Linked DNA regions of Homo sapiens: all the other regions are reported to be linked to region 6. The links are microRNA targets in miRTarBase. Many come from high-throughput screens and were not tested one by one. Region 6 holds a microRNA gene; each other region holds the end of a gene's coding sequence. Distances are from middle to middle.
Evidence for each region. The annotated mature microRNA hsa-miR-10a-5p reads UACCCUGUAGAUCCGAAUUUGUG and lies in region 6 at 816-838, shown strand. An mRNA with a match to its seed (bases 2 to 7 or 8) in the 3' UTR can be bound and repressed. Matches are read on the target gene's strand: a 7mer-m8 pairs with bases 2 to 8, a 7mer-A1 pairs with bases 2 to 7 and ends in A, and an 8mer does both.

Region 1: the mRNA of SLC3A2 is a reported target of hsa-miR-10a-5p. The part of its 3' UTR that is shown has no 7-base or 8-base seed match.
Region 2: miRTarBase lists NDUFB6 as a target of hsa-miR-10a-5p. Seed matches in the 3' UTR shown: 7mer-A1 at 541-547.
Region 3: miRTarBase lists GLOD4 as a target of hsa-miR-10a-5p. The part of its 3' UTR that is shown has no 7-base or 8-base seed match.
Region 4: the mRNA of BTAF1 is a reported target of hsa-miR-10a-5p. The part of its 3' UTR that is shown has no 7-base or 8-base seed match.
Region 5: miRTarBase lists BCKDK as a target of hsa-miR-10a-5p. Seed matches in the 3' UTR shown: 7mer-m8 at 2,470-2,476.
Region 7: miRTarBase lists RABL6 as a target of hsa-miR-10a-5p. The part of its 3' UTR that is shown has no 7-base or 8-base seed match.

Annotation. Positions count from the first base shown.
Region 1 is chr11:62,888,439-62,891,516 of GRCh38, reverse strand. SLC3A2 (solute carrier family 3 member 2) reads right to left here. Exons shown (of 9, transcript NM_001013251.3): 9 at 2,657-3,078. The coding sequence ends at 2,824. Among named protein-coding and RNA genes, the nearest start is that of SLC3A2, 9.1 kb to the right of the region's middle.
Region 2 is chr9:32,551,033-32,554,111 of GRCh38, reverse strand. It overlaps NDUFB6 (NADH:ubiquinone oxidoreductase subunit B6), which reads left to right. Exons shown (of 4, transcript NM_002493.5): 4 at 168-1,111. The coding sequence ends at 236. TOPORS (TOP1 binding arginine/serine rich protein, E3 ubiquitin ligase) reads left to right here and starts at 1,526. Exons shown (of 3, transcript NM_005802.5): 1 at 1,526-1,678. The coding sequence starts at 1,676. It overlaps SMIM27 (small integral membrane protein 27), which reads right to left and starts at 1,785. Exons shown (of 2, transcript NM_001387564.1): 1 at 1,633-1,785; 2 at 1,105-1,311. The coding sequence starts at 1,677. The coding sequence ends at 1,189. RefSeq lists enhancers at 1,038-1,751, 1,556-1,885, 1,896-2,105, 1,752-2,466 and a silencer at 2,746-2,965.
Region 3 is chr17:757,479-760,557 of GRCh38, reverse strand. It overlaps GLOD4 (glyoxalase domain containing 4), which reads left to right. Exons shown (of 9, transcript NM_016080.4): 9 at 320-1,228. The coding sequence ends at 385. Among named protein-coding and RNA genes, the nearest start is that of GEMIN4, 6.8 kb to the right of the region's middle.
Region 4 is chr10:92,028,374-92,031,452 of GRCh38, reverse strand. BTAF1 (B-TFIID TATA-box binding protein associated factor 1) reads right to left here. Exons shown (of 38, transcript NM_003972.3): 38 at 16-2,663. The coding sequence ends at 2,520. Among named protein-coding and RNA genes, the nearest start is that of BTAF1, 110 kb to the right of the region's middle.
Region 5 is chr16:31,111,825-31,114,903 of GRCh38, reverse strand. It overlaps BCKDK (branched chain keto acid dehydrogenase kinase), which reads right to left. Exons shown (of 12, transcript NM_005881.4): 11 at 2,877-3,035; 12 at 2,113-2,783. The coding sequence ends at 2,639. Among named protein-coding and RNA genes, the nearest start is that of KAT8, 4.3 kb to the left of the region's middle.
Region 6 is chr17:48,577,663-48,580,741 of GRCh38, reverse strand. MIR10A (microRNA 10a) reads left to right here and starts at 795; the gene lies at 795-904. The region is part of intron 1 of HOXB3 (homeobox B3); the gene reads left to right. HOXB4 (homeobox B4) reads left to right here and starts at 2,392. Exons shown (of 2, transcript NM_024015.5): 1 at 2,392-2,879. The coding sequence starts at 2,423. HOXBLINC (HOXB associated long intergenic non-coding RNA) reads left to right here. Exons shown (of 1, transcript NR_183916.2): 1 at 1-425.
Region 7 is chr9:136,840,181-136,843,259 of GRCh38, reverse strand. It overlaps RABL6 (RAB, member RAS oncogene family like 6), which reads right to left. Exons shown (of 15, transcript NM_024718.5): 14 at 3,048-3,079; 15 at 2,073-2,938. The coding sequence ends at 2,738. It overlaps AJM1 (apical junction component 1 homolog), which reads right to left and starts at 782. Exons shown (of 3, transcript NM_001080482.5): 1 at 671-782. RefSeq lists enhancers at 1-537, 669-963, 953-1,092, 538-1,419 and silencers at 313-642, 1,589-1,883.

The sequences.
Region 1 (3,078 bases), not on the chromosome of region 6:
AGGAGGCAGAGGAAGGAGGAAAGGGGGAGGGCTGGAGCTGGGACCCTGGGAAAGGACATGGACAGGGAAGGGTGGGGAGCCTCAGGAAGAGGCCCAGAGCAGGCAACAGCCAGAAGGTGGGGCGGGTGTGGGGGTGGTTGCTGAGAGAGAAGGGAAACCCTAGGCAGAGGGAAGCCAAGGCCCAGCAGGCTGAGTGTCTTCTCAGGAACTGTGCTGACAGCCTCAGGATCCTGGGCCTTAATTTGGGTCTTTTAATGTCTTGATCTCTCCCCTACACCAGGAAACCCTCAGAGGCCCAGGCCCACTCCAGGACACAGCCCATGGGAAGTGAAGCCTGCACCAGTGACCCGCGTTTTTTGTTTTGTTTTTTTTTTTCCGAGACTGAGTCTTGCTCTTTTGCCCAGGCTGGAGTGCAGTGGTGTGATCTTGCTCACTGCAACCTCCGCCTCCCAGGTTCAAGCAATTCTCCTTTCTCAGCCTCCCGAGTAGCTGGGATTACAGGCGCCCACCACCATGCCCGGCTAATTTTTGTATTTTCAGTAGAGACGGGGTTTTGCCATATTGGTCAGGCTGTTCTCGACCTCCTGACCTCAGGTGATCCAACTGCCTCGGCCTCCCAAAGTGCTGGGATTACAGGCACGAGCCACCGCACCCAGCCAGCATTCTTTTCTGTAAGAAAACTAAGAGAGCCGAACTAACTCCAAGGGCCATGAGGCCTGCGCAGATCACTAGTACTGCAACAGGATCCCAACAGCAAATACTGCAGATCTGCTTGCACAATAAACGCAGGACCAGCCAGGCACGTGGCTCACGCCTGTAATCCCAGCACTTTGAGAGGCCGAGGTGGGCGGATCACGAGATCAGGAGATCGAGACCATCCTGGCTAACACGGTGAATCCCCGTCTCTACTAAAAATACAAAAAAATTAGACGGGTGTGGTGGCGGGCGCCTGTAGTCCCAGCCACTCGGGAGGCTGAGGCAGGAGAATGGCATGAACCTGGGAGGCGGAGCTTGCAGCGGTCGCACCACTGCACTCCAGCCTAGGTGACAAGAGTGAGTCTCAAAAAAAAAAAAAAAAAAAAAGAAACGCAGGACCCAAACACTTCTTAACACTTCTTACCACCTCCACTACTACCATCCTAGAAAGTATTCTAGGTTGCAGGAACAAACCATCTTAACTGGCCTCCCTGCAAGCTGGCTAGTAACAGCCAGTGAAGTCTGTTAAATTCCAAGCGAGACCATGTCACTCTGCTCAAAACCCTCCAACAACTCCCATTCCACTCCCTCAGACTCTATGTGTAGTGAAGAATTCTTACTTGGAAGTCTGGCCTTTACCCTCGGCTACTGGTAAGTGCCCTCTAGACCCATGGAATGTCCTGACCAACAGGAGTGTCAGTGATAAATGTGATTTACGATCTGAGCTTTGGAACAGGCAACCTCTGGGGGAAATGGAGACAACTAAAGGCCTTAGCCCAAAGCTCTCACAGGGGCTGAAGATTAAAGGTCAGCCACAGGGCACTATGTGATTAAACACCAGGGGAAACTCGGCACACCCAAGGATCAAGTGAGCTTCTCTGGTTATATCTCCGTCATGGCCGGGAAGAAGTACCAGGACTCCATTGCAAGATAGCAGGAAGCTTCTTATTTAGCTCCCTCCCAGACCCCGCCCCAGGCCTCTCATCTTTTGGCTGGCTCTGGGTATGCTTTTGCTGTAATAAAACCATAATCCCAATACCTTCCTGAGTTCTGAGTCACTCTAGTCTATTACCTACCTGAAGGTGGTCATGGGGACCCCTGAACTTGCAGCTGGTATTGAAGTGAAAACAGACTTGTGGGGACCATGCCCTCCAACCACGTAGGCTGCCAAACTCTCTGCACCCTACGTGACCACCTTATTACAACTGTCATGATCTGCCCACTCCTTGCCGATGAGACTTCATCCCTTACTCCTTTCCTCATTCATATCAGCCAGGCTCCCACCCCTCAGTCCCAGGAAGCCCCTTCCCCAGATACTCACCAGGTGAACTCCCTCACTTATTAGGCCTTTACTCACAGGTCACCTCCGTGGTGAGGCCTCCTTTGGCCCCCTCTACCCTGAAACACCTTTCCTGCTTTACTTTTTCCTCCATAAAAACACTGTCACCATATCCTCTGCACTACAACAGCTGTGTCTTTTTTCTTTGCTCCCCAAAGGGTATGAGCCCCAAGGAGGCAGGAATTTTTGTACTGTGTTCCCTGCTGTGACCCCAGAACAGGGACAGTTTCTGGTATGTGCTGAGTGTTCAACAAATTCTTGAATGCATGACCTCTAGTATCCTTTAGAAATACCTTTTAAAAACCAGACCATCCCACCCCTACTCTCCGTGAAAGGCCAAGTCTGCAAAAACAGGAAAACTAACTATGTTTGGCTAGAGCCCTTTGCTGAAGGGGATGAAGTTAAGAGTCGGCAAGACCCAAGATGTCCAGAGAGCCCCGTGGCCCAGCATGGGTGAGGCATGGGTGCTTTCCCAGCCCTGACACCTCCATGCTGTTGACTTTGGGAGGCCCCCTCTCCTCTGGCCCTGGGACCCTACATAAATAATGAAGGAGTTGGAGGAGACGCATGGGAGGGGAGGAAGGAGAGAAATTCCTGCTATGAGAGAAGCAGAGGGAAGACTTCACCATGCAGGGGTGACTTTTATTTGAAGGCAGAAAACACCCTATTTGGGGGTTCACTCATAATCTGCAACAGTTTGTTTGTTTGTTTTTAAAAAAGAGAAAAATCAGAAGCCAAAGGGCCTGGGAAGGAAAGGAGAAGGGTAGTGGGTCCATGTCAGGCTGAAGTCAGGCCGCGTAGGGGAAGCGGAGCAGCAGCCCTTCGTGAGGCTCCAGTTTCAGGCGTTCCAGCTCAAGAGGGGAGCCCTCCTCACGGCCTGGCTGGGTGCTGAGCAGGAGGTCAGCCTTGGCTGGCAGGCTGGCGCTGGCAGGCAGGTCGGAGGCCTGCAGTCCAGCCGAGAGGCCCACATCCCCAAAGTTAAGCACTACCAGAAAACGCTCATTCTGGTCCCAGTGGCGGATATAGGAGAAGAGTCCAGGCCC
Region 2 (3,079 bases), not on the chromosome of region 6:
TGATTGTTCAGATTTAGTCAGCTTCTACTTTGTCTAGGGTCCTTTTAAAGGGAATGCCAGAACTCAAGTACATTTTCCATGTGAGATCTGATGAACATAGAACAGAATAGAACTATCACCTCTGTAGACTTAAGATTTTTGTACTAACTGTATCTTTGTTTTCCTAGGGTGATACAATTCTGGAGACTGGAGAAGTAATTCCACCAATGAAAGAATTTCCTGATCAACATCATTAAAGATTATGTAAAAAGTTAAAAGGCTTATGAGCCTAAGTTTGTTCCTATATTACCATATTTACTGAATTTTCTGGAAAAGTAACTTTAATAAAGTTTAATCTCAGAAATTGTCATATCTGTTTTCAAGCATTGTACAATTTGAGACTGAGTAATTTAACAATAAGTAAAAAGTGGACATGCTAAACAAATATGAGAGACTACCTACTTTTTCTGGTCATTCTTGACTTGGAAAACGGTATGGAAAAGTATTTAGTTACATGTTTGTTTGTTTTTTTCTTACACAGTACTTACACTAATTTGGTATCAGGGTATGCAACAGTGAAATATCACAATAAACAAATGTAAGAACAGCAATTCCATGCACTTTTGTTTTAAGGAAATCTTTCCGGCCAGGCGCAGTGGCTCATGCCTGTAATCCCAGCACTTTGGGAGGCCGAGGCGGGCAGATCACGAAGTCAGGAGATCGAGACCATCATGGCTAACACAGTGAAACCCCGTCCCTACTAAAAATACAAAAAAATTAGCCGGGCGTGGTGGCGGGCTCCTGTAGTCCCAGCTACTGCGGAGGCTGAGGCACGAGATTGGTGTGAACCCAGAAGGCGGAGCTTGCAGTAAGCCGAGATAGTGCCACTGAGCCTGGGCGACAGAGCAAGACTCCGTCTCAAAAAAAAAAAAAGCTTTCCGAATCATTTTTGAAGAATTTAGAAACTTGATTGAAAAGCTTATTCCAACTATGATCTGACACTCAAGACTGTCAGATTTAGGTTGCTGTTAATTTTGTCATGAGAATGTAAAATACTAAAATCTCTAAGTGAAAAATTTGCATACTAGTGCTTGTTATAAAGGATAATGCAAAAATAAACTTGGGAACTTTGCATTATGAATTTTATTTTTATATCTACATAAGCATGAGGGAAAGAACTGTATTTTCAGATAATTAAATCCAGAAGAGTTACAAATTTTCATTCGTCCCAAAGATTTTGTCTGGGTATTTCTTCCTTAGCTGTCGTCTTGCAGACACCATCGAAGCATAGATGATGCAGCCCCAGGAGATTAAAACGATGGCAAGCAGCAACTAAACCAAAAATCGCAAAGGAGGTGTGAAATCTACCTGATATTTCCCCTCGCCCCCGTCAGGTTACCGTTGCCATTGCTAAGGTGGGAATTAAAGTAACAAAGTCGAATAAATGGGGTTCCAGTGGCGGGTACACCCAGCAGCCCTTACGTAAGAAGCGGAAGATCGTATCCTCCAGGAAGAGGCGGAGTCGAGGTGAGGGAGTGAAATGCTTAATTCAGGAATGGATTTTGGAGTTTCTGGGTGCTGAAGAAATAGGGCCTTTCCGCCTGCGGGCCCAGTGAGTCGACACGGTGGGGGCCCGCGATCCCCGGGACTTACCACTGAATAAATCCAGTCCAGCGTGCGACGACTTACTGGCTTCATGGTAAGGAGGCGGCAGCAGTCCGCGGGAGCTGGCGGGAGCTGCGGGCCTTACAGTAACCTCCCAGGCGGTGGCTGCCAGGCGCCAGCAGCCATCTTTTAGCCGGGCACGAGCGCCCGCCCACTCGCTTCGTGCAGCGCTGTCGCTGGCCTCTTCCGCCCGGAGTTGGGGGGCGGTATCACGTGATCGGGGGCCTTGCCCGCCTTTTAGAGAGGGGAATAAACGAGAAAATGTTAAAAATTGCTTTTTTTTTTTTTTTTTTGCCAACTAAGGAGATAGGCGTACCTCCACTGGTTTTCTTTCTAGTTGCAATGCAATATTAATGCAGGATAAGGTGCTGTCGTGTCCATTTAAAAGTTAATTTGAAAAACAATCCACGTTTTAAATATTACGTCTGGCTCTAAAGCTGGAAGAATTAACGCTTTCTCCCCCGCTCCCTCCCCCACGCCTCCCCGCATCTGATACCACACGATTTAGATGGACGTTCGCCTGTTCATCTTTGACGTAAAAATACCACCCACTCTTTTATATGTGACAAATCGTTGTGGGAACCCCTGTAAATCGAGCCATTCTTCAGAAACGTATAGCGTAATGTATATCTCTAAGAAGAAATACGTGGGACGCGTTACCCGCCATAATGTATCAGTCAAGCAACAAGTGTTTGTTGAGCGTGTCTGATGTTCTTGAACTGCCGCGCGTGAGATACTAAGCCCCGAGCACGGCAGTTTGGTGGGCGAGCGTACCAGGTTCAGCTCTAGAATGTTTGGGGCGCTCACATTTGAGGCCTGAGGAGTAGAATCTGGCAACGGGCCGCTTAGGCTCTAGACGTTCTTTATACCTCGCAGTTATCTTAAAAGAGTTTTAGTCTAGATTTCAGGGAGTGGGAAGGGGAAGAGCGGAGAAAAACGTGGTCTGTTTAGGGAGGAGTCCAGGCCCTGTTTTGTTAGGTTGTCCTGTTTCTCCCCAGCCTGGAGGGGATCCCTCTCTGAAGACTTTATAGGATACTGGTTGGGCTCTGGTTTGGGATCCCGTTGGACTCCTGGTGTTGCTTCCGGGAGGCGTACAACAGGAGGTGAGAGACTTCAAGTCCATCTAACAATTCCCCTATCTAGACACTAAAGATAATTTCCTAAGTTTCCGCAGAGTTTGGTAAGGTTGAAACGACATCGAACTAGTTCTCGTGTTTTCCGGGTAAGTTAGGGGCGAACATTCAGTCAGTGTCCCCAGTGGCTGAGTACCAGTAACAAGATGGGGAGGGTCGCGCTGCCCTCCTCCGGGGTCTGGAGCGGCGGGGGAGGGGCCGCATTTGGGCCGGTGCGCTGAGCCCCGCCCCCGAGGCCGGCGTCCATCTGCTGCGCATGCGTGAGGAAGGCGGGTGTTGTGTTTTGATGCGCGGGAGCTGGG
Region 3 (3,079 bases), 48 Mb from region 6:
CTGACCTCGTTGGTCCGCCAGCCACACTTCCTGGCTACAGGCTTGGTTTGCCCTTGACTCTGCCGAGTGAGGATCCACAGTTGCTCATTATCACCAGTATCTCTTGCCTTATTGAACATAACACTCTGTACTGGATTAATACTCTTTAAATGTTAAAAAATTTTTTTTATTTCTCTTCTCTTTTTTTTGGAGCGGGGGTTTGGGTCCTTTTTTTAATGTTAATTTTTTTTATTGTGGTCAGTACAGTGAGATATAAAGTGGGCTATGTCTTTTGTTTTTCAGGCTTGGAGTCAGTGTATATTCTATTTCTATTTTACAGGCAATGGCAGCAGATAAAAGTGACGAGTGGTTTGCCAAACACAATAAACCCAAAGCTTCAGGTTAACGGAAGACATGATGCAGAGCAAGCCTCTGTGATTCCTGCCCAGCACCTGTGAGGCCTGACGTGTCAGTTCCCAATAAATGCTCTTCTGATTTGTTTCCCGTACAGGCAAGGAGGCTTGGGTAGTGCAGATTTGTGTATTTCAATCTTTGAAAGCTCTGATGTAATTTAGAAATGAAATCCAATCATGAGTCCAGGTAGAGAACGCCTGCTGTAATCTACACTGTTGCTGGGACTGCGCATTCTGTATATAACTGTGTTGGATGAGTGACAGATGATTGTCCAGACTAGGACAGCGGCATGAACATGACTTTGGTTGGGATTGCGGATAGTTAGGGTTACCTCTGAATCGTGTAGCTTTTATGAGAGCAGCTGTGCAAGTGAATCCACATTAATGCCTTGTCGTGGTGCCATTCCCAGCGCCTGACGATACGCTCTTCTATTGTCTTATTCTGGCAGGTTTTGACGTTTTAAATTTTTTAAAGAAATTTTATTCCTTGGACCAAAAGGTTTGGTTAACCACCCCCCTCTTACTTGCTTTCACATTTTGAGTGTCCAGAGGAAACAGAAAGGAATGAGTGTGTGACGTTGCTGCACGCCTGACTCTGTGCGAGCTTCTTTCTGTGTATATATTTTGTTTTATTTTTTTCCGTGTATATTTTTAATCCCGACAGAACATCATGTGAGATTTCTTTAAAATGGATTAAACGATTTCTTCAGCCTGAAAAAAAAGGTTTTGAAAATGTTTTCTTGTAGTTTTGTTTGGTTCTAAACAACAAATAGGTTTTAATCACTCGAAATGGAATTATATTGTGTATTCATTGAATAAATTTTTTTTGAAAGTAAGCTTCTGAAATCAAGCTGTGATACCAGTCTCTAAGTCTCATCATGTAAAGTGGTGGCCAGGTTCAGATTTTTAAAAATAAACTTAGGAGATTGGAAGGGATTGACTCAGAGGATCCTGGTTCCCAAAGAACACATAGAGAATTACTTGTAAATCGTAACCTCTGCTTTCCTCCCTTACTGGCAGGGCGTAGGGCATCGAAATTTTGGTTGTATTTGAGCTTATCTTCTTATAGGGGTGATGCTATTATACCTTCACGGAGAGAAATAAATTCTCATCCAGCTCTACAACTTTTCATTCAGCTTGAATTCCATATCCTAGGGAAGCAGTCTTGAGTTTCAAAGCAAACCAAGTTATATATATGGCCCTCCTCTAGGTAATTGGTTCTTTTTATTTTTTATTTTTTTTTTTTGAGACAGAGTTTCGCTCTTGTTGCCCAGGCTGGAGTGCAATGGCGTGATCTTGGCTCACTGCAACCTCCGCCTCCCGGTTTCAAGCGATTCTCCTGCCTCAGCCTCCCAAGTAGCTGGGATTACAGGCATGCGCCACCACGTCTGGCTAATTTTGTATTTTTAGTAGAGATGGGCTTTCTCCGTGTTGGTTAGGTTGGTCTCGAACTCCCGACCTCAGGTGATCCACCTGCCTCAGCCTGGGATTACAGGTGTGAGCCACCGTGCCCTTCTCTTTTTTTTTATACATGTGGAAATTATTATATGAACTTTGAATAACCAGGTAAACTTCTGCTTCTCTTTAGAATGTATGTTAATTTTCCAATTTTCTATTAGATTATTAAGTAATTTTTAATGTTCATCTCTAGTAATATTGTCCTTGTGAAAAGAAACTCCTTTTCCCAGTGTATTGGGCTGCTATAATGTGGCCCTCGAAGTTTGTTGTAGTAAAATAAGTGGTTTATATAAGTACCGAATAACTAAATAACACACACAGGTTTCCCTTTTATCTGCTTATCTTGTATTTTGGCGTACCAAAACGTTTTTCTCCTAAATATACAACTGTGCATGATAGTGGGCACCATGCAGGGTGAACAGTAATGCTGTTTGTCTGCATAGGACATTTTGGCTTTAGGAGATCTGCCTCCTTTTATTTATTTCATTGCCTGTCATGTCTCGCTTTGTTGCGTTTTGTTTTTGCTTTTGTTTTTGTTTTTTTTTAAGACGGAGTTTCACTCTTGTTGCCCAGGCTGGAGTGCAATGGCGCAACCTCGGCTCACCGCAACCTCTGCCTCCCGAGTTTGAGCGATTCTCCTGCCTCAGCCTCCCAAGTAGCTGGGATTACAGGCATGTGCCACCACACATGGCTAATTTTGTATTTTTAGTAGAGACGGGTTTTCTCCATGTTGGTCAGGCTGGTCTTGAACTTCTGACCTCAGGTGATCAGCCACCTCGTCCTGTTGGCGTTTTTTAACATTTTATTCATCCTAAAGCCCTCTAGTGTACAACTTTGGCTTTTTATCAAGGCATCCAGAAGCTTGCTTCTGCACAGTTCAGCTAAGTAATTCTAAACCAAAAAAGAGTAATTTTTAAAAATTATTATTTAGGCCGGGCGCGGCGGCTCAAGCCTATAATGCCAGCACGTTGGGAGGCTGAGGCAGGCGGATCACCTGAGGTCGGGAGCTCGAGACCAGCCTGACCAACACGGAGAAACCCCATCTCTACTAAAAATACAAAATTAGATGGGTGTGGTGGTACCTGCCTGTAATCCCAGCTACTCAGGAGGCCAAGGCAGGAGAATCCCTTGAACCTGGGAGGCGGAGGTCGCGGTGAAGCGAGATCACGCTGTCGCACTCCAGCTGGGCACCAAGAGCGAAACTCCGTCTCAAAAAAAAAAAAATTATT
Region 4 (3,079 bases), not on the chromosome of region 6:
GATCACATTCTCAAATAGCTTCAGTGGAATATTTACTTTTGAATAAGTAAGTTCATATAAACCATCCAGAAGGAATAAGGCTATACCAGTTCAATCAGTCCCAACATCAAAGACTTTTACCCTTTCACTAGAATACTTTTTGGAGAAATGTTTGTAGAATAAATAAGCATATACAATAAGCATATATATGAGTGAATATATGAAACAAAAATTATACCCAGGCCCCCAAATGTTAAGATTTTCCTACAAGAAACCCAAATGATAAGACTAATAATCTCTGAATCTATATTTTTAACAGTTTGCTATTTCCTATCATAAAGACACAAAAACCAAGGGAAGTAGTACAATGGATATCTATGAACCCAATTCCCAGTTTAAAATAGTTAACATTCTATCATGCTTGTTTGACTTCCCACACCCATACATTGAAAAAACTACCAAATCATCACATCCATGAAATTGACAGCAGTTCTTTAATATCATTCATTACTCAGTTCAATTCTCCACATCTCTTCATTATTCTTAAGATGTACTACAATGACTGGGTCATTTAATTAAGAATACTTAGTTCTTACCTGTTTACATGTTTTCCTTTCTATGGAAAAGTTGGAATGTGTGATTTACTATTTTACAACTCAAAAGATTATTTTAAAAATGTTATAGCCACTCTAAGTTTTCCTGTCAGCTCTGACTCCTGTTTCCCATTCAGAAGCAACCACACATCATTTTTCTAGTCATCCTTCTAGAAATACACACCTTTTGATTAAACTCTCAGAAAGTTTAAACAGCCTAAATATCTGACTTCTAGCTCTATCTGACATTTCAGATTGGGAAAAAGTACTAACTTTTATGGTGTGATTTCTTTTGCCCCTTCATAGCCCTTTAATGATATATTGCTCTGTACTTATTCTAAGAAAATATCAATTACTATAAGCTATGTTAAAGAGCTGGTTTATGGAACTAGCAAATAAATAGTTAATAAAAAAATATTCAACTCAAATATACTGAAATGTTCTACATAAAGTTTTGAGTTAAAATCCTAAACAATGAAAAAAAACCTGTATACCTGAATAATCTTTTGCTCTTTCTAGTGACCATTTCCTACAAATAACACACAGTTGCATATATTTTACAGTTTCAATCTTATATTTATTCTCTTGTGGAATGCTAGGTTTAATGTTACAGTATGGTTGTCAAAGCTAATGAAATGTGACAAATGTCTAAATGCTGCAGAACAGTATAATTTTAATTAAACAAAACACCTGTTATTGTACAGCTGAGGTCTGATGGTTGTTAAACTGATGCCTATGTGTATGGCCAGCCACAAACCTTGGGGATGTTTATTACCTGTACATATATATACAAATATATCCCATACATATGTATGCACACAGGCATGTATTAATTTATGCGTGAAACTTATAAAATTATATATACAAACACATACATGCACATCTATCTACATATACCTACCCTCACCATTGAGTAATCAGCCTCATGCCCAATTATTATTGCTGCCCAGTATAACTACATGATTTTAGTGCCAATACCAGGCACCTTTTTGGGTGCAGGATAGGTACATCTATGCATATAGATATGCATATTCATGTATGTTTGTGTATATAAAGAAATTCTCTCTCCCTTTTATGCTTCAGCCATGCATTACTACAATAAACAGTCTTTCCACTGTAGGTGTTGGAATTCTAAACAGTGTAAAATCTATTTCTGGAAAACTGTGTATGTTCATAGTTACAAAAAATATATTATATATATGATTGAAACCTATTGAGTACATATGTTATTTGAATCTGGCTATATCGTAGCCATTAGATAAATTAAAAAAAACCACCCTCTAAATAGGATGTTATGGTAGCCTTAAATATACCATTACCTGTATTTAGAATAGTTGATATTATATCTTAAAAGTTGAAAAAATGATGTTAAAGATTTGAAAAACACTATGCATCTGCATTAAATATATAAATGTTTCCACCAAGGGCCCGATTAAATTCATTGTCTGACATTTTCATGTTCTAAGACTGACCAATATCATAGTCATTATTCTTATATTCTTAAAATTATGGCTCATTAAGGCTTTTATAGAAAAAAAGCCCTATTTTAAATCAATTATAAAAACAAGTTCTATTTAAAAGAAAAAACATATACAAACACTAAAGTACTCATGGATATCATCCTGTACAAAGTGACTAAAGATAGGAGGCCTGTTCCCATTAAGAACACCTCCTGGTAGCACAAATAAACCTGGTTTGGTTCCTCTGCTCTGCAGCTTTTCAGCATGTAAAATTTAAACCATTTCACATTAACATTTAAATTTAATACAGTGCAAATATTTGAGAATAACTTGTTTCCCCCAGTGAAACAAGAGCCAGCATTATGCTGAATATTCTCCAGATCTATTTACACATTGAGTTAAAAGTTCACCATAAACTTAGAAATTTGCTGAATATCAGCAGAAATGTAACTGAACTAGCAGCAATTGCATTTACAATATTTGATAGTTACTTGAGAGAATGCATAAAATTTTCCAGGCTGTACTCTGAATCATACTGCTCTTGATCCCAAAGATCACTCAGGTTTTCAAGAATTGATTTCATACTTGCTTTCCCAGAAGTAGAGGTGTCAGCTTTTTCTGCTTTGCCATCCTTAAGAAAAATTGGCAAAAAAAAAAAAAATAAAATGAGAGGTTAACTTCACAAATTGTATTTTCCTTTAAAATCACACTTGTTTCTAATACAATTATTCAACAGAATTGAGTACTTCAAGTGATGGGGAAATTCATGATCTCCAAATACATTTATTTGTCAGTTTTTTATTTGGAAAGAACTTCAAAATTATGGAAGAATTATAAGAACATAACAAAGAACTTATTTGCTTTATCATTCTCTCTCCCCATTTATATATGTGTATGTATATATGGATGTCAGAAATATAGTTAGATATCAGTTTTTTCTCTGAACAATTTGAAAGAAAGTTGTAGACATCATGTCCTTTTATCCTTTGAGAGGAATCAGCATGTATTCCTAAGAACAAGAATATTCTCTTACATAACCATATAAAG
Region 5 (3,079 bases), not on the chromosome of region 6:
GAAAAGGAAAGGAAAGGAAATATTGTAAGGATGCAGAACCCACAGATCTGAAGAGCTGACTTCATATCTGCTGTTTGGCAGGGCCAACTGTAGGACTTGAGCGCCTGCAGATTTCGGTATTCACAGGCGGTCCTGGAACCAATCCCCAGCAGTTAAGCATGTATAACTATCAATCATATAACTATGTAACGGTTGAACTATCCGTCTTAGCAATATACAAGTGTATTGCAAAGTGCCAGACCGGGTAGGTACTCAGTAAACATTCCCTTTGGCTATTCTCTGAATCTTGTTTGATTTATAATGTGGTTATTGGGCTTGGAAACAATTCTGAGAGGAGTGGAATGCTCAGGGCCTGCGGATGGGTCTCTCAGAGGTTACAAATCAAGAAACATCCGACAGGCATGGTGGCTCATGCCTGTAATCCTGGCACTTTGGGAGGCTGAGGTGGATGGATCACGAGGTTGGGAGTTCGAGACCAGCCTGGCCAACGTGGTGAAACCCCATCTCTACTAAAAATAGAAAAATTAGCTGGGTGTGGTGGCACGCGCCTGTAATCCCAGCTACTCGGGAGGCTGAGGCAGGAGAATCGCTTGAACCTGGGGTTGGGGGGGGGTGGGGCGGAGGTTGCAGTGAGCGAAGATCCAGCCACTGCACTCCAGCCTGAGCAACAGATTGAGACTCCGTTTAAAAAAACAAAACGAAACAAAACAAACAAAAAAACAATGTAGGTGCTCCACCCAGATCCTCTGGGAGTTCTTGCTGTTTCTGTGTGCCCAGATTACCTTTGATGTGCTTTCAAAGACCCACACCAGCACCTGAGGCTCTTCTTAAAAAACCATCCTTAGGTTAATAGAGCTGTTCACTTTCCCAACTGACTTTAACCAGTGACTGCCAAGTGGAGAAATTAATCAGTAACTCTGAGGTTTAGCTCTCTTACCTTCAACCCTGAGGCATAATTGACTGGTTCTGGGCTTTTGCCTGAGGTCACATCCTTGCTTGGCTTCCTCCCCTTCCCCTTCCTACTTCCCCTACTCTGTTCTGGGAGCACTTTCTTAAGAAATCACGTGGACATGAATCCTCTCAGGGACTCCAACCAGAAACATCCCTTCCCAGCTCAAAACCCACTCATGGGCCAGCTGCAGTGGCTCATGCCTGTAACCCCACCACTTTGGGAGGCTGGGGTGGAAGGATCATTTGAGCCCAGAAGTTCAAGTCCAGCCCGGGGCAACATAGGGCTTTGTAGAAACCCTGTTTCTACAAAAAATTTTAAAATTTAGCCTGGCATGATGGTCCAAGCTACTCAGAAGGCTGAGGTGGGAGAATCTCTTGATCCCAGGAGTTCAAGGCTGCAGTGAACTCTGCAGCCACCATATTCCAGCCTGGGCAACAGAGCAAGACCCCATTTCTAAATAAATAAAAACTCACCCATGGATCCCTATGGCTCAAGATAAATCCCATGTTTCAGGGCCCTGGCCTCTGACTGCTGCCTGCCTCTCCAGCCTCAGCACCCTGCCTTGCAGCTGGCGGGATTTTTCAGTCTAGCAAGTCACTGTGGTTTCCTAGCCCCTGCCATTTGGCTTCCACATACAACTTCCCCTCCATCCCCGTGAAGGGTAGGAGATGGTACAGGCCTAGAGCCAGCCTCAGGAAGTTTGCTGTGGGAGCTCACATGTGAAGGCAAGAGAACTTTCCAGTTCTCCTCCCAGCCCCACCAGGCCGCCCTTAGGCCTTTCTTCCCTGGCAAGGTGGGTAGGGTGTTCCTACCTAAGATGTCATCTGGAGTTCTGATTCAGGTCTAACCTTGAGCCTACCTGATATCTTTGCCCAAATCCTTGGTCCTTTCTATCAGGGCCCCACCTTTCCTTGCAGTGGGGCACCCAGTCCCTGCTAGGGCCTGCCAAGGCACAACCTTGTATGTTCTTTTCCTTGGCAGCAGCAGACACAGTATTTTTAACCTACTCAGGCTTGGGAAGCAGTTGGCTCAGGAGTTTGCCCAGTCTGGTGACCTTCACCTCTAGAAACTGTGACTGCCAGGAAAGGAAGAGTCAAAACTGATGCCCGAAGCTGGGTCAGTCTGGGCCTTCAATATTATCTGGGACCCGGAAACATTTGTTCAACAAGATGAATGAAAGCTCTTTGTATAAGGTGCTGCAGTCATCCCACTCCCACCAAATCAAACATGCAACAGACTTGGGACCCATTCTACTCCTGGCCTGCCAGGCTCTCAGGGCAGGTAAGAGACTGGGACACGAACCAGTTCAACCCAAGGGCTCAGTGAACCTGAATGGGGGCAGAAACAAAAGTTCACCTGCCCTCCCCACACACGGGGCCCGAGAGGGCATTCAAAATGTGAACTTTAATAACAGGTCAGAGTGGGGGTTCCCCAGGAACGAGAATGACGGAACTGGTGCTGGAGGCCTCAGGGTGCCCACTTCCCTGCTCCAAGTTCTGGAGGCGAGGAGGCAATGGACCCTGTTGAGGCAGGGCAGTGCCCAGCTCCATGTAAGTCCATCTGTCTGGGTCCCTGAGACCCAAGATGCAGCAGTGTGTGGAGCAGGGGGCCGCCCTGCCTGACCCGGGAGGTCCTGCAGGGAATGCGGCCCAGGCTGGTCGGGTGAGCAGGCCAAAGGCTGTGGGGTCAGATCCGGAAGCTTTCCTCCCGGCCATCGATGTGGCGGAGCCGCAGGTAGACGTCCGTGCCAATGCCCTGCAGGGACTGCAGCTGCAGAGACCCACCGAGGTACTCCGCGTAGGCCCGTGACGTGGGCAACCCGAAGCCAAAGCTGGGGGTGGGCAGGGGGACAGGACAGGAGGCTTCAGAGGCTTGAGTCTCCTGGGGTCCCCCACCCCTCCATCCTGGCCTGGCAGGGTCTCACCCGTGCATGGGTCCTGACTGGGCGCCACTATGCATGTCCAGATGGCCAAAGAGGGGGCTGATCCGGGGGTCCTGTGTGCTGGCCTCAGCAGTAGTGAAGTGGTAGTCCATGACCCGGTCCAGATCTTTGTGAGCGATTCCTCCACCACGGTCTGAGATCCTAGCAAGATGGCAACAACAATGGGCTTGGCTCAGCTTTGATGG
Region 6 (3,079 bases):
CCCACACCTCCCCGGGATAGACCCTCTCTCCTGGCTCCCAGGATGTGTGAGAGGCTGGGAGGGGCCCTATATCATCTGGCTGCATCTTTTATGGTTCCTCATTGCCCTTCATTCGGAAATGAAACGCCTTTGATCTTTTCTCAGGTTGTAAACGGAATTGCCCGTCATTAAATATCCGGGGCCCCATCTGCTTGGTCTCCCAGCATTTTTCTTTACAGCTGTTTCTCTCTCTTTTTACCACTGAATTTTTCCAAAAGGACTTTTATTACACCACCTTCACACCCAGCCGCCTCTTCCTCCTCCCTTCGCTGAGAGGCGCTTTGGAAAATATCTAGATATTCGTTTGATCACAAACTAAAGGCTTGGAGGGGCACGGAGGAGCCGATTGGGGTTTTGTTTTTTCTAAAAAAAAAAAAAAAAAAAAAGTCCTGGGGGGAGGGGAGGGGCGCGAAGGCACCCAGAAAGGCCTGAATCTGACTTCGTGGCAGCCTCAGAATGACCCTTCCTCCTTTTGTGCTTAGCTAATGTTTACATCTCATAATTCATGCGCCACCGAGAGTTGCGCGGCGGCGGCGGAGGCAAGGTTCTCGTCCCTTTGCGAACTGGCTACTTGAAATTCTAATAGAAGAGGAGAATTGAAAACCTTGTAATCCCAAGAACAGACTCGCACTGCCTTTTTCTGTTCCCAGAGCTCAAAACTAGAACAAAACGAAATAAAACCAAAGCACTCAAACCACACCCCAAACGAAGAAGGCGCGGAAAGTAGGAGAACTGGAAAATTTCTGGGCCAAGAAGATCTGTCTGTCTTCTGTATATACCCTGTAGATCCGAATTTGTGTAAGGAATTTTGTGGTCACAAATTCGTATCTAGGGGAATATGTAGTTGACATAAACACTCCGCTCTTATTTTTCCAGAAGAAAAAAATATATATATATGTATATGTAGTATTTTTCTGAATGAGGACAGTCTGGTGACTGGCCACACGAAGACTCCTTCCTCTTTATTCCTCTATCTTTTCCTCCTTCAACTGGTTAGAGATGGAGAAATCATCTACCTGAACTCTCCCCACGCCTGCCCCTGGGAGCCTTGGTCCCTTTTCACATCTCTTTAAGAGGTTAATGTTATTGTTGTTGAAGTTTTAAATTTATCTTCTCGTCCCAAACGCACCCATTTTCTATTCTGGGCTCAGGGAGGCTTTATTGGAAATTGCGAAAAAAAATGACTTGTCTTCAGTGTGCGAAGAAGGCAAAGGAAATTTGTTTAACAAACGGATGCTGAGGCCGCCTTTCCGTTTCAGTTCAGAACAAGATGACCTGGAAATACTCGATTACCAAGGAGTGTTATTGTCTGTGTGGGTCACCTCTATGGCTGTATCCCCAGTATCAAAGGGATGTGAGATTTCTATTCGCCGCGGAGGCGGCGACAATTAGAACGTCTCGGACCCATGGTTAGTATTGCTCGGGTGGTTATGGAATTAGCAAATTGCTAATCAATTTTGCTCTCAAAAGTTGCAGGTTTTTTTACCCCAGCGCTCTGTCTATAGTGTGGGAAACCAAGTCGTTTCTCCAGGCTTGGGCCGTGTGGGTTAAAGGGAGGAGTGGATAGGAGAAGGGGGACAGACGGACTGACGGACACAGTCTAGCTAACCGTGCAGCTAAATGAGATTTGGAAGGCGAAGTCTCCCCGAATTAGTGCATGAATTTCCTATCGATCCGCCCGCGGTTCCATTCATCTCTGACAAGTCCCTCTGCGCACCCGCCCTCTAGCTCTGGACGCCTCCTCTCTCACCCCTACCCTTCCCCATCCAGCTGCAGAGAAAAGCCCCAAGCTCTGTGCTCTGGCCCCCGTATGGGTTCCCCTTTCGAGACGGAGCCCCCAACCCGCCAGTAACCTAACTCCCCATAGAGACGCAGGGTGCTAGCGCTCCCTCCCGCCGAGGGGAGGAGACTGGGGCCTTTGGAAGGTACAGAATGCTGGGCAGAGGTGAGGCAGAACAGGAGGGCTACACCGGGAGCCCCAACTTCTTAAGGGATCTAGGGTTTGCGCTCTGCCTAGCGCCCCAACAGGCCCTCCAGTCGCAACCTGCGCGCGCTCTCTCTCTCGCTCTCTCTCTGATCCCGGAGAGAGCGAGGCAAGGAGGGGGTCGCCCCGCAGGAGCCCTATGTAAATCCTGGTGTTGGGTGGGTGGGTGGGGAGGGGGAAGGGAAGAAGGGGAAATAAACCTCTTTGGCTGGAGTGGGGTCCGGGTGAGCAGATTTCCTTATCCGGGAATCGCAGGCGGGGCGGCCATTGGCTCGGAGGATCACGTGGGCGCCTAACTTTGTTCACTTGACAGTAAGTAGGAGGGCTTTCGGAAACAGGAAAACGAGTCAGGGGTCGGAATAAATTTTAGTATATTTTGTGGGCAATTCCCAGAAATTAATGGCTATGAGTTCTTTTTTGATCAACTCAAACTATGTCGACCCCAAGTTCCCTCCATGCGAGGAATATTCACAGAGCGATTACCTACCCAGCGACCACTCGCCCGGGTACTACGCCGGCGGCCAGAGGCGAGAGAGCAGCTTCCAGCCGGAGGCGGGCTTCGGGCGGCGCGCGGCGTGCACCGTGCAGCGCTACGCGGCCTGCCGGGACCCTGGGCCCCCGCCGCCTCCGCCACCACCCCCGCCGCCCCCGCCACCGCCCGGTCTGTCCCCTCGGGCTCCTGCGCCGCCACCCGCCGGGGCCCTCCTCCCGGAGCCCGGCCAGCGCTGCGAGGCGGTCAGCAGCAGCCCCCCGCCGCCTCCCTGCGCCCAGAACCCCCTGCACCCCAGCCCGTCCCACTCCGCGTGCAAAGAGCCCGTCGTCTACCCCTGGATGCGCAAAGTTCACGTGAGCACGGGTGAGTGCGTGGGCACCCCTTCCCCCTCCCACCCCTGGAGCTTTACACCAAAGGGACTTCGGAGGCATGGGTTGGGGGGGGGTTGAGCTGGGGAAGCCAATTGTCCCCGCTATAAACTCGCCATTGCCGGAGATTTACGGTCGCCTGTTTTCAGAGCCACATAATTACATCCCCCATAAATTTTTATGGCCTGGTGGGCC
Region 7 (3,079 bases), not on the chromosome of region 6:
CACAGGCCTGGCCTCTGCACACCCAACACCTGGTCTGGGGGGTCTACCCCAGAGTGAGCTGGGGAAAGCGGGTACCTGGCCAGGCCCCTTGCAGGGCAGAACCTCAGGTGGATGGGCCTCTCGGGGTCTGGCCGGGTCCCCCCTCTGTGTCCCAGGTGTGCAGGGGCTTCCTGCTGGCAGGGCTGTTTTTCTGGGTCAGGGCCACGAGTCCCAGGCCTTGTGCCCATCCCAGCCTCCCCCGCCCACCCCCCCATCTCCCCCCTCCACCCCACCCGTGGCAGGACTGTCTACCCTCCTGCTCCCTCTTTCATGCTAAGCTCAAGGCCAGGCCGGAATCCGGCCGGATGACAGGGTGTGAGGCTCCACCCCAGGGAGGTGACAGTCGGCCTTGCTGGCTGCAGCTGTCGGTGACACCCCCTCCCGTGGGGATGGGGGTGGGGTCGGCCCTCTCCCGGGCCCAAGGCCTTCTGGAGCCCACGGAGATGGCTGGCGGCCTTCCCCACCTCCCAGCCCTGCCTTGCCTTGCCTTGCCCTGGCTGGGAGCGGCCCTTCAAGGGATACAGCCGGTGTTGCCTGGGGGCGGGGACTCCCCATCCTTTCGGCTGCCCTAAGGCAGCTTCCCCCGCCCATGACGGTGACACACTCAGCAACTCGGCCCCTAGCCCCTTACCTGGGTGCTGCTCTGGCTGTGCCCCGGTGGGCTGTGCCACCCCCAGGTCGGCTCCTCTGTGTCCCCGGCACTGCTGCGTCCCCGGCACGGGCAGAAGCTTCCAGGCAGCAGCGCGGATCCTGGCCTGGCTGCTCAGTGCTGCCCCTGATGGCAGCTGAAGGGGCTGTACTTAAAGGGGCCGCACCCAGTGGGGGCTGCACCGTGGAGCTGGGGATCATGAGCTGCACTGGCTCCAATTTGGGGCTGTGCAGAGCACAGGGTCCCTGCAGCACCCCCAAGACACAGACCTCAGTGTCTAAGCAGGAGTCTTGTGGCCCGGAGCAGCCTGCCAGTCCCGCCAGTGTCACCCCAACACACTTGCCTGAGAGGAGGGGCCCGAACCCTGGCCTGGGCTGCAGAGATTGGTCAGGGGCATCTTGGAATTCGCATCTCCTGTCGGGCGAGGCAGGAGCAGATGGGCTACTCTGTGCCCCACTGGCCTCTCCCCAGGCCCTATCTGCTTCAAGGCTGCCAATGCCAAAATCTTGGCGGGTACCTGGGGCCAGATGGCCCCTGCAGCCTCTTGTGTCCCCAGGATGCCATCCTCTCTGGGTGAGGCCACTCCTGCATCCGGTCCCTGCCAGCCTGGGAAGGCCTGCACGTGACCTGCCATACCTGCCTGGTAATGTCCTCGTCCCACTCTGCCAGCCCCTCCCCAAGGCATTGGGCCTGGGAACGTTCTAGCTTGGCAGAGGGGTGGGGAGCTGATGCCCTTGGCTCTGAAGGGCAGGACCTACCCCATTCTGCACTGTTCAAAGCAGGGCCCACTGAAACCCCAACATAGCCGTCCATGGTGTGATCCTGTCAAGTTCACGTACTGTCGACCCATCCCCACACCAGGCGAACCCCTGAACCCGGCCCTGACCTCATGGGCTGTGGGCTAAGGGGCCAGGCTAAGCTTGCTGTGGGCCACAGCACCTGCTCAGGGACTGCAGTGACTGCCCAACACCCTGGGGCCACAAGGCTCCCAGGCAGAGGAGCCTCCAGCTTGGCCACCTCCTCCCCTTCACTGGCACACTCTTCCTGCCTGCCCTGCAGGGTTCTCATGGCAACAGTAGCTGTGGGGGTGGAGGCTGGGCGCTGCTGACAGCTGGAGGGGGCAGGAGCCTGAAGGCGGGGGGCAGGGCTGCAGGCGGCTGCCTGGGAGCCTTGCAGAGTGGACTTCCACCTCCTGGGGCTGAGGTCGCCAAGCGTGCTGCGTGCAGCTGCTGAGCCCTGGCACAGGTGGGCTGGAATGTACCCAGGGTGTGGCCAGACTTGGTGGGACGTCCTCACACCACTGCTGGGCAGCCTCCTGCCAACCCACGGCAGCCTGGGCCCGGGGCAGCGGGAGCAGAGGTACAGGCAGAAGAACAGACACACGCAGAGTGAAACAGGAGTGCTTTATGGTCTGAGTGGAGTGTTTGGGAGGAGTGCCTCCCGGCTCCTGCCTTCGGGCTCACCTGAGCGGGGGCGCAGCTGAGGCCACTGTGGGAAACACAACCCCCACTCCCAGGAGAGGCCTCACATGCTGCCTTCGGTCTCGCCAGCCTTCTAGCGTGGGGCCTGGGCCGCCCTTTAGGGTGAGTCTGCACACCCGTGTTCAGGGCTCCCGGCCGGAAGCGGAACCATAGGCATGCTGCGGCCCCAGATGAGCGCGGAGGGCAAGCAGGTGCCGGGGCAGCGCACACCCCACAGCCAAGCGGCCCCTGCCCAGCCTCTGTAAACAGACCCTCACAGGTCCCTCCTGGGCCTCAGTCACATCCCTGAGAAACACTGGCGGCTCTGCCCCGAGAGGGCCAGGGTGTCCACCGAGCCTGGCTGAAGCCAGCTGTCCCCTCCCTTCTTGCAGAGCAGGCTCACACTGGGCCTGAAGGCCCAGCACCTGCAGGGCCCAGCCTGGGGACCACCAATGCCCGGCCTCTTCCAGCTCAGAAGCGCACACGGCAGCCACGGGGCAGCGGCAAAGGCGATGGTACAGAGGCAAATGCCTCCCCAGGCAGTGACAGGCACGCCCCCCGCCCCAGGGCGGCCACTGCCCACGCCGGCCTAGAGCTCCTCGTAGTCGCCACCCCCAGGGTGGCGGCCGCCCGGGGCCCCGCCCCCCAGGAAAGCCTCCAGCTCATCGGCAGCCGTCCTCTCCCTGCTGCGCGGGGGCCGCTGCTGCCGCCGTCGCCGCTCCTCCTTGCCCTCCTCCTTGTCCTTGCTCTTCTTGTGTTTGCTCTTCTTCTTGGCAGCTTTTTCTTCTTCCTGAGGAGCACAAGGATGGGGCGCCATGGAGTCACAGGAAGCCACAGCCCTGGTCCCAGGACCGCATGCCACCCAGTCCTGGCCTGCCAGGAAGGGGAGTAGCCAGTACCTCTTTGCCTTTTTTCTTCTTCTTCTTCTTCT